Homo sapiens: one gene and its partner. The protein of the gene in region 1 interacts with the protein of each later gene in a pairwise test. Each region holds a gene or a part of one and is shown in the gene's direction. Other genes may lie near its edges.

Region 1 (7,945 bases):
CTGAAAACACTTGGTTTGTCCAATCAATCTGATTATGCAGTCAATCCACTTCAGCCCCTTAAAAGGCCCCAACAACAAAGGGACTTTTGATGCAACTTTCCACTTTGTATACATGCGGCATTGGTCTTGAACACTCTGACTTTTTTTTTTTTTTTTTTTAAGATTCTGTAGGTTCTTGTCTTTCTCATCCTTTCTGTATTGCTCTCTGCCCATTTGGCTGGCTGTCCTCTGGCTTTCTGGGGACTCTGTGGATAATTTTTCCAGCAAAGAGCCCACATGGAGGGTTTAGACTAGAAGTGCTTCCTTCAGGGCCCAGGGCCTCCCATCAGCCTCACCTCTCTGCTCTGAAGTTTCATCCTCAACTTTTCTGCCCTGATTGACTGATTACAGCTTGGAGCCTGAAGTCAGACAGACCTGTTCCCATCCAGCTCCACCACTTGGCCAGGATATTATGCAAGTCTCTTAATCTTGAGCCTCAATTTCCTTAGCATACAAAACAGATAATGCCCATCTCGAAGGGTTATTGTGAAGAGTCAATGAAGTAACATAGGAAAACATGTTAAACCCCATACTGGGAGCATGATAGGGGCTCAATTCATATTAACTAAAATCTTCAAAAGGTGACCTGTGCTTTGGACATTTCCTTTGGCTCCAAGCCCTAGCTTAAGGCTTACTCTCTACTGTTATCTTCAGCATCTGTATTGCTTTTATTAAGTAATGACCTAAAACATACATGTGTTGTAATGAACATTTACACTGGCCAAGGGGGTTAATCATATTATTAGTAATCAGAATGATGGTGTGATGACAATACTAATTGCTGGCTGCTACAACCCTTCAAGAAACACAAAGTGCTTAAGAGAAGCCACTTTGATCATTTGAGATTGGGTTATGATCCTTTTTGATTTATGGTTTTCAATACTCATTCTCCTCTAAGATCTTGCCATAGGGGGTCTTGGGGAATCAGTGGCTGTGCAGAACCCATGGTTAGAGCTTCCCCAAGCTTTGTGTGTCTAGCCCACAGCACAAGAGGGGAGGAGTGGGAGCCTGGAAGATAGGGGCGGGGTGGGGACGGAATGGGACTACCTCCCCCAGCCTTGGGAGCATCACCACCAGAGCATGGATTAAAGTGAAGCGCATGGAGTTAAGGTTAAGTGCCAAGAACAGCTCTTGGACATGAAGGCAGAACTGAGACCTGGTGTTTTCTGAGTGTTCCCCAGTCAGCTCCGAGGCTCATGTAGAAAAGGAAGGATGGAGGGAAGGCGTTTGGCAGGACTTGTCAGCAGCAAGGATTTCCACACCCAGAGCTGGCAAGCTCCTCAGAGACTTAAGGATCCACCAGGGACTCTCACAGACACGGGAGAGGCTGGGGAGGAGACTGCTGGCATCAGGAAGCTTGGAGACTTGACCTTGCCTACTCATGCCACTTTGGTTTTGTATTTTGAGGCTTTTTTTCTTTTGGGGGAGTCGGGGAGGGGGTGTTGGGAGCCTACCTAGATGGCCGAACACTATAAATCTTGACTCAAGGTCTTGCTTTCCCCTCTTTTATTTAAGAGCTGTATGGCCTTAGGGAAGTTATGCAACCCCTCTGCTACCTCCTGTGAGGTTTCAGTATATGTCTATTTCAATCGCTTAAAGTAGTGCAGAGCACACTGAGTGTCTGGTCAGTGGTGGGGTTTATTATTCTCTTCTTGCCAGATCCTAAATCTACCCTAAGGTTTCATTCACATCCTTCAGACCAGAAAACACCATCAGACTCAGCAGGTGCCAGGGGGAGCCATAGGAAATTCTATCAGCTTCCTCCAGAGAACAGTCGTACCTTGGAATCTCTCAAAACTCACCTCTGCACCCTGCCCCATTTCCCAGCCCATTTTCCTAAGGTGAAGCAGAAGAGATCCTAATCAGATTGAGGTTTGACTGAGGAGGAATTTCCAAGTAGACAGGGAAGGAAAGGAGGTTGGAAGAGGAGTGGGGGCATCTGCTTCAGGGGAGGAAAGGGGAGAAGACTCCAGAATGTCAGCTGCCAGTTTAGAGACAGAGGGATGAGTAGGATAACCTATTCATGCAGATTCCAGGTGAGCTTGGATCTACTCACTGCCCTATTCACCTTAATTTCCAGAGACACTCTCAGTTCAGGCCACAATGTGTGCCTCCAAGCTCCCACCCCTAACTGCCTGTCTGTCAGTTTACATCCCTGGCACTGAGCATTCCCTGGGAAACGGAGAGCGAGAGACCAGATGATTTGGTGCCAGGAGTGGGAGGTGCCAGGATTCTTACAACCTGAAGTGTCTAGGGTTCCCTGACTTTCTGATATCCACAGCCTCTTTTTGCTGCATCCCATGGGTTCTATGGGTTCTCACTGCTCAAAGTATGGTCTGCAGACCAGCAGCAGCAGCATCACCTAGGAGCTTGTTAGAAGTGCAGAGTCAGCTGGGCGCGGTGGCTCACGCCTGTAATCCCAGCACTTTGGGAGGCCGAGGCAGGTGGATCACGAGGTCAGGAGATCGAGACCATCCTGGCTAACACAGTGAAACCCCATCTCTACTAAAAATACAAAAAATTAGCCGGGTGTGGTGGCGGGTGCCTGTAGTCCCAGCTACTCGGGATGCTGAGGCAGGAGAATGGCGTGAACCCGGGAGGCGGAGCTTGCAGTGAGCTGAGATTGCACCACTGCACTCCCGCCTGGGCAAAAGAGCAAGACTCTGTCTCAAAAAAAAAAAAAAAAAAAAAAAAGAAGTGCAGAGTCTTGGTTGGGCACGGTGGCTCACGCCTGTAATCCCAGTATTTTGGGAGGCCAAGGCGGGTGGATCACTTAAGGTCAGGAGTTTGAGACCAGCCTGGCCAACATAATGAAACCCCATTCCTACTAAAAATACAAAAATTAGCCAGTCGTGGTGATGGGTGCCTGTAGTCCTAGCTACTTGGGAGGCTGAGGTGGGAGAATTGCCTGTACCTGGAGGTTGCAGTGAGCTGAGATCATGCCACTGCACTGCAGCCTGGGTGACAGAGTGAGACTCTGTCTCAAAAAATAAATAAATAAATAAATAAATAATAGAAGTACAGAGTCTTAGGTCCCCCAAATCCCACTGAATCAGAATCCGTATTTTAAAGAGACCTTCAGATCATTCCTATTCGCATTAGAGTCTGAAAATCACCAACATAGATTTTTTTTTTTTTTAAGTCTTAAGGCAACTCAGTATATGAGAAAGTGCTATGGATTAGGAGTCAGGGGGCAGGGCAGCTAACTCACCACCTGTCTTTGGTCAAGTCATTTTCCCTGTCTGAGCCTCCTCTGGAAAGTGAGGAAGCAACTCCAGACAAATCCTCACATGCCCTCCAGACAAATCCTCACACGCCCTCCAGACCTCACAGCCTAATAAGTTCTCACTGAGACTACTGCACACTAACTCCACCAGAGATGGAGAGCCAGGCCCGGGTCACGTAACCCTGTTCACAGGCAGTCCTAAGCGCCCAGGAACCTCCCAATGCCCTGGCCCACCAGGAGCAGTTCCCATGTGCTGCATCCCCAAGGCAGCCTCTCCCAGTCCCTTTGCATATTGTTTCATCTTCCATTAGTTATAGTGGAAACCAGCCTTTTGCACCATCCAGAAGGCTTTCTGTTCCATCCAGAAGGCTTTAGAGCTTAGATATTTTGTTCTCTTTTCCTATATCAGGCAAGTCTATCTCACTAGGGCTCATTCCATAAACTCCCCACCCTTCTCAGCGGAGAACCACAAGATTCCCGGTTCCTGTCCATGGTTCACCAATTCAACAAATATCTATAAAGCACCTTTGAGTACGATGTCCTGTGCTACGATGGGATCTGGGGAGCCAGCAGAGGAGAACAAGACAGCTAGGGTTGCTGATCTCGGAGCTGACACTCTGAGCGGGATACAGATGTTCAACAAAGAAGACACTATCTATAAGTCCATTACCATTCATTCATTCGATCAGCAATCATTTATTGAACACCTATTTTGCGCCAGGCCCTTGGGACTGGCAAAAAAAAGCCCATAAAAATTCCTGCTCGTCTGGGCACGGTGGCTCACACCTGTAATCCTAGCACTTTGGGAGGCGGAGGCAGGCGGATCACCTGAGGTCAGGAGTTTGAGACCAACCTAGCCAACAGGGCGAAACCCTGTCTCTACTAAAAATACAAAAATACGCTGGGCATGGTGGTGGGCACATGTAATCCCATCTACTCAGGAGGCTGAGGCAGAAGAATCGCTTGAACCTGGGAGGCAGAGGTTGCAGTGGGCCGAGATCTCACCACTATACTCCAGCCTGGGTGACAGAGCGAGACTCCATCTCAAAAAAACAAACAAACAAACAAAAAAACCAAATTCCTGCTCTTCTCAAATGTCAAATTGTTTGAAATACAGTAAAGGCGGCCAGGTGCAGTGGCTCACACTTGTAATCCCAGCACTTTGGGAGGCCGAGGTGGGCGGATCACGAGGTCAGGAGTTCGAGACCAGCCTGGCCAACATGGTGAAACCCCATCTCTACTAAAAATAAAAAATAAAAAAAATTAGCTGGGCGTGATGGCATGCACCTGTAATCCCAGCTACTCGGGAGGCTGAGGCAGGAGAATTGCTTGAATCTAGGAGGCGGAGGTTGCAGTGAGCCGAGATCACCCCATTGCACTCCAGCCTGGGCGACAGGGTGAGACTCTGTCTCAAAAAAAATAAAAAAAGAAAGAAAGAAAGAAAAAAAAGAAATACTGTAAAGGCACAGGTATGTGTATATGCCACCTCCTTCCCACTCAAGATTTAGAATGAGCCCATGATTAATTACATTTCCTTTTGTCTTCTCTTGGGAAAAACTCCAATCCTGTTAAGCCCTAAGAAGAGATCTCATTCTCTGTCTAAATCCCCCAGCAGGGGCAGGATATAGGACCCTTTGCACTTCTCTCCATCTATATAAGTAGCTCAGCCGGAAGCCCTGAGTCCGAGTCAGCCCTGGGCAGCGGGGAGGTCCCCAGAGGGGGCTGGGCCCTGTCTGGGTATGGGGAAGCTTGCTGCCTCTGGTTCCCTTTTCTCCCCTTCACTGGCAACCTCTTGTCCCTTCCCTTTTCTCTCTTTCTTTCCTGACCCTCTCCCTTCCTTCCTTCTTTCCCTCCATTTTTCCTTCCTCTTTCACTGTCCTCCCCTCTGCCTCCTTCCTTCCCTTCCTCTTAAGTGGTGACCATTTCCCCAAGGCCCAGACACAGCCCATCTCGCCGGAGTGGACCATGCACTGCAGCTGCTTGGCTGAGGGCATCCCAGCCAACCCCGGCAACTGGATCTCAGGTGAGCCTCTTGGCCGGGCCTACCCCCTGCTCCAACGGTGGCCTAGGGCAGGGCCTCCAGAGCCCTCACTCTCCCCTCTCCACCCAGGGTTGGCCTTCCCTGATTGGGCCTACAAAGCCGAGTCGTCCCCAGGCTCCCGGCAGATCCAGCTGTGGCACTTCATCCTGGAGCTGCTGCAGAAGGAAGAGTTCCGCCATGTCATCGCCTGGCAGCAGGGAGAGTACGGGGAATTTGTCATCAAGGATCCAGATGAGGTGGCCCGCCTCTGGGGCCGCAGGAAATGCAAACCACAGATGAATTATGACAAGCTGAGCCGGGCCCTCAGGTGAGAGGAGGCGGCTGACATGGCCAAAGAGGGGGGATTTCAAGGAAAAGGGCCGTGGTTTCTGGTACCCCTGCTGACTCCCACCCCTCCAAGGCTTGGGAAGTGTCCTGGCCTGTGGTGAGCAGCCTAGTGGTTCTCGGGGAACAGCTTAGGGTCAGCCCGGCTAGGGAGGAGAATGTGACTGGGTCCCTGACTCTATTCTCTGACTGCTGGGCCAACTCTATTCTCAACTTCGAATTCTCCAGATATTACTACAATAAGAGGATCCTGCATAAGACCAAAGGCAAAAGGTTCACATACAAGTTCAACTTCAGCAAGCTCATCGTAGTCAACTATCCTTTGTGGGAAGTGCGGGCGCCGCCATCCCCCCACTTGCTGCTGGGGGCCCCTGCCCTGTGTCGGCCAGCGCTGGTGCCCGTGGGTGTGCAGAGTGAGGTAAGAGCGGAGGTGGCCCCTGTCTCAGGGCTCCACCAGGTCCTACCCCTCTGCCCAGGAGGCTCCCCACCCTCCTCTTTGCCTCTGGGGCCCATCAGCCTCCAGTTTTCTTCTCCTCCTGCATCCTAGACCCTGAGTGCCCCAGAGGCAGGGGTATTAACAATCCAGGTGGTACAGGACCCACCTGTGAGAAAGGGTGGCTCCTTCTGTCCTAGTCGCCACTCCTTTAGGGGTGGATCAGAGGGAAGGGCCCAGGGCATCTGAGACTGTAGGCAGCCGTGGCAGTGGGCTTTTAACAATGGGTATGAGAGGCCAGGCGTGGTGGCTCACACCTGTAATCCCAGCACTTTGGGAGGACGAGGTGGACGGATCATTTGAGGTCAGGAGTTCGAGACCAGCCTGGACAACGTGGCAAAACCCCATCTCCAATAAAAATATAAAAGTAGCTGGGCATGGTGGCACATGTCTGTAATCCCAGCTACTAGGGAGGCTGAGGCAGGAGAATCGCTTGAACCCAGGAGGCAGAGGTTGCAGTGAGCCAGGATGGCGCCACTGCACTCCAGCCTGGGTGACAGAGCAAGACTCCAACTCAAAAAAAAAAAAATCGGTATGAGAGTATTTCATTGTTTTAGCAACTGGCTAACAGTACCAGATTGTACTGGAGGATACATGCCAAGGAGAGCCCATCACACCTCGCACCTACTTCTCACCCCTCAGCTCCTGCACAGCATGCTATTTGCCCATCAGGCCATGGTGGAGCAGCTGACAGGACAGCAGACCCCCCGAGGGCCACCAGAGACCTCTGGGGATAAGAAGGGGAGCAGCAGCAGCGTCTACCGTGAGTGCTCAAGGCTGGGAGGGCCCAGGGGGATCTTAGCCAGAGGAGGGAGGGCCCTCCTGGCTGAGTACATGGCTGAGGGGGCATGAGACAAGGGATACTATGTAACTCATTCATTCATTCGACCAACATTTATTGAACACCAGCTATTTACTAAGTGCGGGGGTTCAGAGATGAAAGGCTCAAGAGGCTCAGAACCTAGTGGGGAGCAGAGATGGGATTACTGCCAGCGACTGCTGCTGGCATTCAGGTAAGCACTAGGTGCTGTGCATTCAGGCCCAGAGAAGGAACTGGGGCTTCCCAGAGGACACAACACTGGGGCAGGTGAAGGAGGTGGGAAAAGATGCCTAAGCAGAGGGAATAGCATTTATTTATTCTTTTTTTTTTTTTTTTTTTTGAGACGGAGTCTCAGTGTTGCCCAGGCTGGAACACAGTGGCAGGATCTCAGCTCACTGCAGCCTCTGCCTCCCAGGTTCAAGTGATTCTCATGCCTCAGCCTCCTGAGTAGCTGGGACTACAGACATGCACCACCACGCCCAGCTAATTTTTGTATTTTTAGTAAAGACGGGGTTTCACCATGTTGGCCAGGCTGGTCTCAAACTCCTGACCTCAGGTGATCCACCCGCCTCAGCCTCCCAAACTGCTGGGATTACAGGTGTGAGACACCACACCCAGTCAGAAATAGCATTTATAAAGCAAAAAGCTGTGAACAAGTGTAGCAAATCTGGAGAACAGCTGGTAGTTTGCTGTTGGAGAGCAAGTCTTGCGATGCGGTGGGAACAAGCAGGACGGATGAGAGACAGGGCTGGCAAGGCAAACAGGTGTCAGGCCACAGAGGCCGCACAAGCCATGCTAAGGGAGCAGGACTTTCTCCTGTGGGCAGGAGGGACTGGGAGGGAGATCCATGGTCAGACTTTCATTTTATTTTACTTTCTTTTATTATTTTTTGAGATGGCGTTTTGCTCTTGCTGCCCAGGCTGGAGTGCAATGGCACAATCTCGGCTCACTGCAACCTCCGTCTCCTGGGTTCAAGCGATTCTCATGCCTCAGCCTCCCAAG
Region 2 (10,352 bases), on another chromosome or scaffold:
CGCCCCAGTGCAGGAGAGGGCACTGAGTGTGAGAATCACACACGGCTGGAGTGGGAAGGGGCTCTGCCACCGTTTACCTTGCAGTTGAAGCCGAGGACCGCGACAGTCTTGCTGAAAAAGACCCCGGCGCGAGGCTTCCCCCGCACGCTGCTGAGGTGGGAGAGGGTGGGTGTGAGGGCGGCGCAGCGCCTGAATGCGGTGGGCAGGAGGCCAGCGCTGGGGCTGCAAGGGGACCCAGCCCTGCTCCCGGTCTCCGCGTCCCTTGACTCCCTCGCACACCCCGGGGTAGCGCTTAGTGACAGAGACGCTTCCCAAAGCGGCTCTCGACCCGAACCAATGGCCCTGTTTTTTTTTTTTACGGGGTAGGGGGAAGTGGACGCTCCGGGCGGTGCTGTTGAGCGAGGAGCTGTTAGGAGCTGGTCAAGGCTCACACCCCACTACCGCCTCCACTGCTCACGTCTGTGAACTTGAGCTACACACTTCGCTCTGAGCCTGCGTGCATGCAATGCTCTTAAGTAGTGCTTAAGGGCCAGGCACTTAAATCTCATGAGAAAGTAATTGTAAGGTTGGGCGCGGTGGCTCACGCCTGTAATTTCAGCACTTTGGAAGACCGAGGCGGGTGGATCACCTGAAGTCAGGAGTTCAAGGCCAGCCTGGCCAACATGGTGAAACCACATCTTTACTTAAAAGACAAAAAATTGGCCGGGCGCGGTGGCTCACGCCTGTAATCCCAGCACTTTGGGAGGCCGAGACGGGCGGATCACGAGGTCAGGAGATCGAGACCATCCTGGCTAACACGGTGAAACCCCGTCTCTACTAAAAATACAAAAATTAGCCGGGCATGGTGGCGCGTGCCTGTAGTCCCAGCTACACAGGAGGCTGAGGCAGGAGAATGGCGTGAACCCGGGAGGCGGAGCTTGCAGTGAGTCGAGATCGCGCCACTGCACTCCAGCCTGGGCGACAGAGCGAAACTCCGTCTCAAAAAAAAAAAAAAAAAAAAAGACAAAAAATTAGGAGGGCGTGGTGGCGCGCGCTTGTAATCCCAGCTACTCAGGAGGCTAAAGCAGGAGAATCACTTGAACCCGGGAGGTTGAGGTTGCATTAAGCCGAGATTGCGCCACTGCACTCTAGCCTGGGCAACAGAGTGAGACTCCGTCTCAAACAAACAAATCAACAAAAAAAAGTAACTATAGAGGGAACTTTGCCTTCTAGCATTAAACATCCACCTACACGTGCTTTTGCCATTTTTGGTTGCCAGGTTCATGTTTCCCCATGTCCCCACGAAGAAAACAGGAGCAAAGTTAGTCCAAGCCTTATCAACCCATACAAAGATAGTTGTAACACAGTCTTGCCGGGTTCCTACTCCGTGGCACCCACCCCAATCCTGCATTTCCTCACCCCATTTCAGCAGTGCATTAACCCTTGGACTCGCAGCCCCATCTAAATTCAATACCACTGGATCTGGGAGCTGTGCCCATCACTCCCAGTCACCTTTCTCTGAGCTCTTCACACACCTGAGGTCTGAATTACAGTTTACTACTTCATGTTACAGTTGCCTCATTTTCAAGTTAGTTGTTTTCTTTTGTTCTGTTTTGTTTTGTTTTGAGACGGAGTCTCACTCTGTCTCCCAGGCTGGAGTGCAGTGGCGCTATCTCTGCTCACTACAACCTCCTCCTTCCGGTCTCAAGTGATTCTCCTGCCTTAGCCTCTGGAGTGGCTGGAATTACAAGCCCCAGCACCATGCCCGGCTAATTTTTTTTATTTTTTTATTTTTTTTTTTTGAGGCGGAGTCTTGCTCTGTCCTTAGGCTGGAGTGCAGTGGTGCAATCTCGGCTCACTGCAAGCTCCGCCTCCCGGGTTCACGCCATTCTCCTGCCTCAGCCTCCCGAGTAGCTGGTACTGCAGGCACATGCCGCCACACCTGGCTAATTTTTTGTATTTTTAGTAGAGACGGGGTTTCACCATGTTAGCCAGGATGGTCTTGATCTCCTGACCTCGTGATGTATTTCTTTTTCTGTGAACTACTGTTCTTGTATTTTGCCCATATGTATAGTTGGTTATTTAAAACAATCTATTTGTAGATGCTCTTTTCTATTGAGGAAATTAGCCCTGGCTGGGTGCAGTGGCTCACCCCTGTAACTCCCTCACTTTGGGAGGCCAAGGCGGGTGGACTACTTCAGCTCAGGAGTTGAGACCAGCCTGGGCAACATGGCAAAACCCCGTCTCTACTAAAAACACAAAAATTAGCTGGGCATGGTGGTGCGCACCTTGGCGGGGGCTGAAGTGGGAGGATTGCTTGTGCCTGGGAGGCAGAGGTTGCAGTGAGCCGAGGTCAAGCCACTGAACTCCAGCCTGGGCAACAGAACAAGACACTGTCTCAAAAAATTAAAAAAGAAATTAGCCCTTTAACTGTAATGAACTACAAATGTTTTTCTGTGTATTGGCCTTTGACTTTGATTATGGCGGTATTCTTTTGTTACATAGAAAAAATTTTAATTTTTATGTTTGATGTGTTTTTACAAATCCTTTTTTTTTTCTTTTTTGAGACAGGTTCTCTGTCACTCATGCTGGAGTGCAGTGGTGCGATCACGGCTCACTGCAGCCTCAATGTTCCAGGCTTAAGCACTCCTCCTTAGCTTCCTGAGTAGCAGGGACCACAGGCATGCGCTACCATACTCAACTAATTTAAAACATTTTTTTTTGTAGAGATGGAATCTCACAATGCCTGTCTCAGCCTCCCGAGTAGCAGGGACCACAGGCATGCGCTACCATACTCGACTAATTTAAAACATTTATTTTGTAGAGATGGAATCTCACAATGTTACCCAGGCTGATCTTGAACTCCTGGGCTCAAGTGATCCTCCTGCCTCAGCCTCCCAAACTGCTGGGATTACAGGCATGAGCCACTGTGCCTGGCCCCACATCTTATATGATACTTGGAAAGAACTTCCTCACTGTGAAGTCATAAAATAACTTCCCCATTTTTTTCTAAATTTTTGTGGGTTTACCTTTTTACATTTAAATATTTCCTCCATTTAGATTTTTTTTAGTGCAAGGTATTGGGTATGGATCCAGCTTAATTTTTCCCAGATCTGGAAATAATCCCTCTTCCCCATTGGATTATCACTTCTGTTTTAATTTTTATAATAACCATTGACTTTCTTCTTGCTCTGTGCCTGGCACAGTGCTAAGCACCCTGTAAGCATCATATGCTTTTGTTTTTGTTGTTGTGGTAGTTGTTGTTGTTGAGACGGGGTCTTACTCTATTGGCAAGGAGTGATCTCGGCTTGGCTCACTACAACCTCTGCCTCCCGAGCTCAAGTGATCCTCCTGCTTCAGTCTCCCAAGCAGCGGGGTCTACAGTTGTGCACCACCACACCTGACTAATTTTTGTATTTTTTGTAGAGATAGGGTTTTACCATGTTGCCCAGGGTGGTCTCAAACTCCTGGGCTCAAGCGATGGGCCCATCTCAGTCTCTCAAAGTGCTGGGATTATAGGCATGAGCCACTGTGCCTAGACAGCACCATGTTAAAATCCTGACATCTCTGGAAGTAGGGATTATTATCACCATTTTACATGTGAGGAAATCAAGGCTCACAGAAGTACATTGTCTTGCCCAAGGTCCTCTGGCTGGTAATTGGTGGCAGAGCTAGGATTCCAACTAGAGCTTTTTTTTTTTTTTTTTTTTTTTTTAAGACAGAGTCTCACTCTATCACCCAGGCTGGAATACAGTGGCACAACCTTGGCTCACTGCAACTTCCGCCTTCCAGGTTCAAGCGATTCTCCTGCCTCAGCCTCCTGAGTAGCTGGGATTACAGGTGCCCACCACCACATCTGGCTAATTTTTGTATTTTTAGTAGAGACGGGGTTTCGCCAAGTTGGCCAGGCTGGTCTTGAACTCCTGACTTCAGGCTATCCGCCTGCCTCAGCCTCCCAAAGTGCTGGGATTACAGGTATAAGCCACCATGCCCGGCCTCAACTAGAGCTCTTAAGGAACACACAGTACAGCCTACTTTCTTCTCCAAAGGTCAATTTCTGATTCTGAAACAAGGCTGACTAGATACACCAGGCTGTATGTCTGATGGGCTTTTCCTGATCTTTTGGTCTACCTTGGCAGGCACAGTGTAAGCCTAGTGGGCCCAGTGGTTGGAGTCCTAAGCAGCCGGGACCCCAGATACACTCCCTTTGTTGGGGCAGTCTGTCTGCCAGCCCTGAGGACTCCCCAAGGCTAGTGGGGGCTGAGTGGCCTTAGCATTATGCTTGCCATTCTTCTGCCTAGAATACTATACCCCCAGATAGCCCAATGGCTCACTCCCTCATCCCCATCAAGATTTGACTTAGGAACTGCTCTTGGTTGATGCATCTCCACTGGCCCACAGCTTGGTCTCATTTATTCCCGTGGCTTAAAATACCATCTATATAAGCTGATGACTCCCAATTTTTTTTTTAATTGAGACAGAGTCTTGCACTGTCACCCAGGATGGAGTAGAGTGGGCTCTATCTTGGCTCACTGCAACCTCTGCTTCCCGGACTCAAGCAGTTCTCCTGCCTCAGCCTCCTGAGTAGCTGGGATTACAGGCATGTGCCACCATGCCTGGCTAATTTTTGTATTTTTAGTAGAGACGGGGTTTCACCATGTTGGCCAGGCTGGTCTTGAACTCCTGATCTCAAGCGATCCGCCCCCTTCAGCCTCCCAAAGTGCTGGAATTACAGGCATGAGCCAACGTGCTCAGTGATGACTCCCAAATTTGTATCCTCAGCTCAACCCTCTCTTCTGACTTCTATCTCTTCTGACCTCATTTCTAAGATGTAAGCTCCATAACGACAGAGATTTTCTGTTTTGTCCTGAAACCATGCATGACACACAGTAGACATTCAAAAAGTATAATATTTGTTCAGTGAATTAAAAGGGTGAACCCCTGGGGGTCTCTTCTCTGCCCATTCCATGGCGTTGCCAGAAGCAGTCAAGGAGAGGAAAGGAAGGCAAAGAGAAGGGAGGTTTGGCAACTCCTCTTAGGGGCCAGAAGTGAAGCCACTTGGCTAGAGAGTAGTGGTGGCAGACAGTCTCATTGCATTGTCCCTTCTTTCCCATTTGTTTGTTTCCTGTTATTTCTGCACAGTCTCTTTCCACTGTCTTCTTGCACTGTTACCTGGCCAAGGGGAAGGCAAGGTAGCAGAGCTGTGTGTGCCTTCTCATTTTGCCCAGATGGGAGTGCAGGGGGCTTCTGGCTAACCTCCCCTGCTGCTGGATAACCTCCCCTGCTGCTGGTTGCTCTTTAGGGTTGGAGCTGGCTCACTGCTCAGGACTCTGGGCCTTCCCAGACTGGGCCCCAACGGAGGACCTACAGGACACTGAGAGACAGCAAAAGAGAGTCCGAACTATGTTTAACTTGGAGCAGCTGGAAGAGTTGGAGAAAGTGTTTGCAAAACAGCACAATCTGGTGGGGAAGAAGAGAGCCCAGCTGGCAGCTCGGCTCAAACTTACAGAGAACCAGGTGGGAGTAGGGACTCCTATTGGGCCTGGGCTGCACCTGGGGACAAACACTACCTCAGCAAGGCCCTAAAAGGAGGGTGGGAGGAAGATATGGGCCCTCTTCCCTGTGCCAGGCTGTTGAGGGGACAGGCCCTGACTTTTTGCACACTCTATATAATGAAAAAAAAAAGTCCCATTTGAAGTCACATAATGTGAACAACTTGGAATGTTAACTTAGATTATTAGTCTAAAAATTGATAATAAAGGATTTCCATGCTAAATAAGGACCTGCCAGTAAAATTAAGTAGATGTGGCCAGGTGCGGTGGCTCACGCCTCTAATCCCAGCACTTTGGGAGGCTGAGGTGGGCAGATCACAAGGTCAGGAGTTCAAGACCAGCCCAGCCAACATAGTGAAACCCTGTCTCTACTAAAAATACAAAAAAATCAGCTGGGTGCCTATAATCCCAGCTACTTAGGAGGCCGATGCAGGAGAATCGCTTGAGCCTGGGAGGCAGAGGTTGCAGTGAGCGGAGATCACGCCACTGCACTCCAGCTTGGGCAACATTTGGAGAGCCCGTCTCAAAAAAAAAAAAAAAAAAGAAGAAGAAGAAAAAAATTAAGTAGATATTAAAGAGTCAATATAATCAATATTTCTTTGACCCCTATATTCCTCTCTAGCTATTATATAATTTCTCTGCTCCTTTTACAGGCAAACTTCTCAACAACTTGCCATGTTCACTTTGTCCGTGTCCTCGCCTCCCACTCACTGCTTCACACATTCCAACATGACTTTTCCCTACCATTCCATCAAAACTTCTCAGCAAGGTCTCTAATAACCTCCATGTTGCCAGAGCCAACAATATGACACTTTCCTTTCTTCAGCTCAGTCCACCACTCAGCAGCTCTTAGTACTGGACAGTCAGCCACCCCATCCCTTATTGAAACATGTTCCTCATAGCCTCCAGACACCATGCTGTCTAGTTTTCCTCCCAGCTCTGCCTCCTTGGCAGGCTACTCTTCCCTTGGGGACCTCGAAATCTCTTCCCAGCTGGTCTCATCTATTCCCGTGGCTTAAAATACCATCTATAAGCCAATGACTCCCAAATTTGTATCCTCAGCACAACCATCTCATCTGACTTATATCTCTAACTACCTTCTTGGTGATTCCACTTAGATGTCTCATGGGCACATATCTCAAACCCAAGTCTAAACCTCAATTCCTGACTTTTTTCTTGCCCAAATATGTTCCTTTCCCATATATGACCCCACCGTCCACCTGGTTACTCAAAAACCCAATCATCCTAGATTCCTCCTTCTCCTCCGCTTCCAACCATCATTGAGCCTTGTCATCTCTACCTCCAAAATACAGCTGGAGTGGCTTCACTTCTCTCTGTCACCCCTAATGTACGCCCCAGCTCTCCCGGGGCCGCTGCAGTAGCCTCCCTCCTGTCTTCCTGCTTCTGCTGCCATCCATGCTTCACACAGCAGCTAGGTGCACAGTGCACTTCAGATGTAAATAGGATTATGTGGGCCCACGTAAAAGCCTCATGGGTGACATTCCTTATCTATGGCCTTCCAGGTCCTGGGTGATCTGGCACCCGCTGACCTCTCCCATTTCCCTCCCTTGACTTTCTCCTCTCACTGTCATCCGTGCTCTCCTCCTTCCTGGTCCTCAAACACTCCAAGCTTGGTTCCATTTCAGAGCCTTCCTACAGGTTGTTCCCTGCCCTGCAGACCTGCTCTTCTCTGTCCCCATCAGGTGGGCCTCTCTCTCTTTGAGCCTCAGCTTTAATGCTGGCTCCTTAGGGAGGCCTCCTCTGCCCAAACCCCTGTTTGTACCCCCTTTTGTGTTTACATAGCTCTTTGTTTGTTTACATGTTTCTTGCCAGTGTTTCTTCACTAGCTCATGAGCTCCACGAGGGCAGGCAGCTTGCCTCTGTTGCTCACCACTGTATCAGCATCACCTAGGATGGTGCTTAGCACATACTGGAAACTCAGTAAATACTCAGATGAATGAATGGTGTCTGGAATTGTAGAAAGGGGTGTTTTGGAGGAGGTACCTCCCTGAGAAGGAAGAGCAAATATTGGCCAGGCAGAGAGGGGTGTTCACTCCAGGAATTAGGAAGCAGTGGGACCTGATGGTCACATTCTGATCTCTGCCCACTCTCCAATTATAGGTGAGAGTCTGGTTCCAGAACCGCAGGGTCAAGTATCAGAAGCAGCAAAAGCTGAGGGCAGCAGTTACATCTGCCGAGGCTGCCTCCCTGGATGAGCCTTCCAGCAGCTCCATCGCCAGTATCCAGAGTGATGATGCCGAGTCAGGAGTGGACGGCTGAAGACTGGGACAGAGGCCCTAGCCAGGCTGCCTGGACTAGTTCCTCCTGGGGGTACCCACTGGAGCTCCCTGCCTCACACCTCAACGAAAAGCCTCCTCAACCAGAAGAATCTGAGCTGTCAAGCAGGGACCCCCTTTTCTATACTGATTCCTGGAAACTGGAATAATGTAATGATTGGAGGCACAGACTCTGGCCTTCAGCTATGTCCTTGGCCAACCTATGGAACTTCCGAGCCTTTTTTCTTTATCTGTATAATGGGTGCATTCATAACTTAGATCACCCAGGGGTGAGAAGATGTCTGTAAAGCAATAATGTGCCATGCACAGTGCAAAGTGTGTGGTTACTGTTAAGGCTTGTAGGCCCCTGAGTAGAGAAGACCAACTGGAAAAAAAAAAGTTTTTTTCTTCTGCTGTCACCCCACAACAATCAACACAGAACACTTCTGTGACCAAACGTATAGGGGTGTACCCCACATTCCAACCTCCAGTTCAGCAAATTCTGACATGATCTACCTGCAGGTAGTGTCTGACCCCACAGATTCAGGGCTCATTCCACATGGCAGCCCCTCCTTTCTTTTTTTTTTGAGACAGACTGCAGTGGCGCGATCTTGGCTCACCGCCACCTCCGCCTCCCGGGTTCAAGCGATTCTCCTGCCTCAGCCTCCCGAGCAGCTGGGACTATAGGCGCATGCCACCATGCCTGGCTAATTTTTATATTTTTAGTAGAGACGGGGTTTCATCATATGGTCAGGCTGGTCTTGAACTGCTGACCTTGTGATCCACCCACCTCGGCCTCCCAAAGTGCTGGGATTACATGTGTGAGCCACCACCCGGCCCAACCCTGCCCTTTTTGTTTTTTATGGAGTCTTAAGGTCTACCAGTCATCAGTCAACTCATTAGCATATGAAAAGACATCACTTCAGAGATTCTAGGGATTTTAGGAGTTCTATGCCAGGAAATCGAGATGAAGACCAAATATATATTTCATAATATCACAGCTCCCCTCACCTGGGGGAGTAATACCTGTACCAGCAATTAATATTTTCCTGGCCTGGCTGTGGAGAAGGAACCTCTTTGAATAAGCATCTGGGCATAGAAGACTCTTCACCATCAGAAGGAGTTGAGAGCAAAGAAGAGAAGGTAGACTGTTTAGCCCACTTCACAAAGTTTCCCAACGTTTTCTTGTTTTGTCTGAACTGTTACCATTCTCAGAAGAAGCTCAGGCCCAGCAGCAAAGACAAGGACTCGCTCTGTCACCCAGACTGGAGTGCAGTGGTGCAATCATAGCTCACGGCAGCCTCAACCTCCTGGGCTCTAGTGATCCTCCCACCTTAGCCTCCTAAGCAGCTGGGACTACAGGCGCGTGACACCACGCCTGGCTAATTTTTAACATTTTTTGTAGAGACAACGTCCACTTGTTGCCCAGGCTGGTCTTGAATTCCAGGCTTCAAGTGGTTCTCCTGCCTTGGCCTCCCAAAGCCCCATCTTTTTATAGAATAATTTGTGTATGCCAAGGCTGGCATTTTGTCATAAACTCTGCTGTGTTTTCACAGGACAGTTATAATTTCCCCCTTTCATGACTCTGACTCATGGCTCCTTTTTCTTCTCAAGAATGTGCTCGATTTCTCTGAAAGAAGCCTGCTGCCAGGATTTGCAGAGCTGATTTCTGTAGCACAGACCATTCAGATTCTAGAATGGCTCTTGGGGACTGAGCTGAGGGATGGAAGGAAGCCTGCCCTGCCACCTGGTGGTGAGTGAGGGCACGGCCCCCAGCTGCTCTCGGGTAGGTTTGCCCCCAAGTACGTGGACTATTCGCTCCCTGACACCGGGCTGCAGGCTTGAGGGGACCCAGGGTCGGTTTCAAGAGCCTCTTCTCTGGCCCTGCCAACTATCTATCTCCCCCAAGTCCGTGGACTATTCGCTCCTTGACACCAGGTTGCAAGCTTGAGGAGAGGCAGGGTCAGTTTCAAGAACCTTTCTCTGTCCCTGCCAACTATCTATCTATCTATAATTATTTGATAGATAATTGTGGCTTGATCACGGCTCATTGCAGTCTAGACCTCCCCAGGTTCAGGTGATCCTCCCACGCATCACCACGCCCGGCAAATTTTTCTATTTTTTGGAGAGACAAGGTCTCACTACGTTGCCCAGTCTGTTCTTGAGCCCGGGAGCTGGAGGCTGCCGTGAGCCGAGATCGCCCCATGCCAGTATGGGCGACAAAGCGAGACCCTGTCTCAAACAAAACTCACAAAATCAGGGGACAAGGAAACAAAACAAGGCTTGATAGTCAGGCCTAGCTGTGGGGACAAATGCCATAGGTCTGTGGTTTGCAGCTTCTTGGGGTCCTGAGAGAACAGGCCCCTCCCCCTTTTCACGACAGTGTGTGCATATGCACACTCACTTCTGTATCCAGTTTCAGAGGTTCTCAGATCTGAGGTCCCCTATGGACTCCTCCGCTACCCCCGGTTGCAAGGTCCCTAAGCCATTGAAGAATCTGACAGAGGCACAAGTCCACCCTGACCTTTGGCAGGACTGTTCTGCT

Evidence for each region.
Region 2: the proteins of ETV3L (region 1) and NOTO interact in binary tests that used the Homo sapiens proteins (3 or more experiments, as listed by UniProt).

The regions. Positions count from the first base shown.
Region 1 is NC_000001.11:157,096,809-157,104,753, reverse strand, and holds the start of ETV3L (ETS translocation variant 3-like protein), read left to right. Parts: upstream 1-4,945; 5' UTR 4,946-5,230; coding exon 5,231-5,288; intron 5,289-5,375; coding exon 5,376-5,613; intron 5,614-5,858; coding exon 5,859-6,048; intron 6,049-6,765; coding exon 6,766-6,886; intron 6,887-7,945. UniProt on the Homo sapiens protein: Transcriptional regulator.
Region 2 is NC_000002.12:73,203,119-73,213,470, forward strand, and holds the end of NOTO (homeobox protein notochord), read left to right. Parts: intron 1-5,281; coding exon 5,282-5,496; intron 5,497-7,652; coding exon 7,653-7,811; 3' UTR 7,812-9,395; downstream 9,396-10,352. UniProt on the Homo sapiens protein: Transcription regulator acting downstream of both FOXA2 and Brachyury (T) during notochord development. Required for node morphogenesis.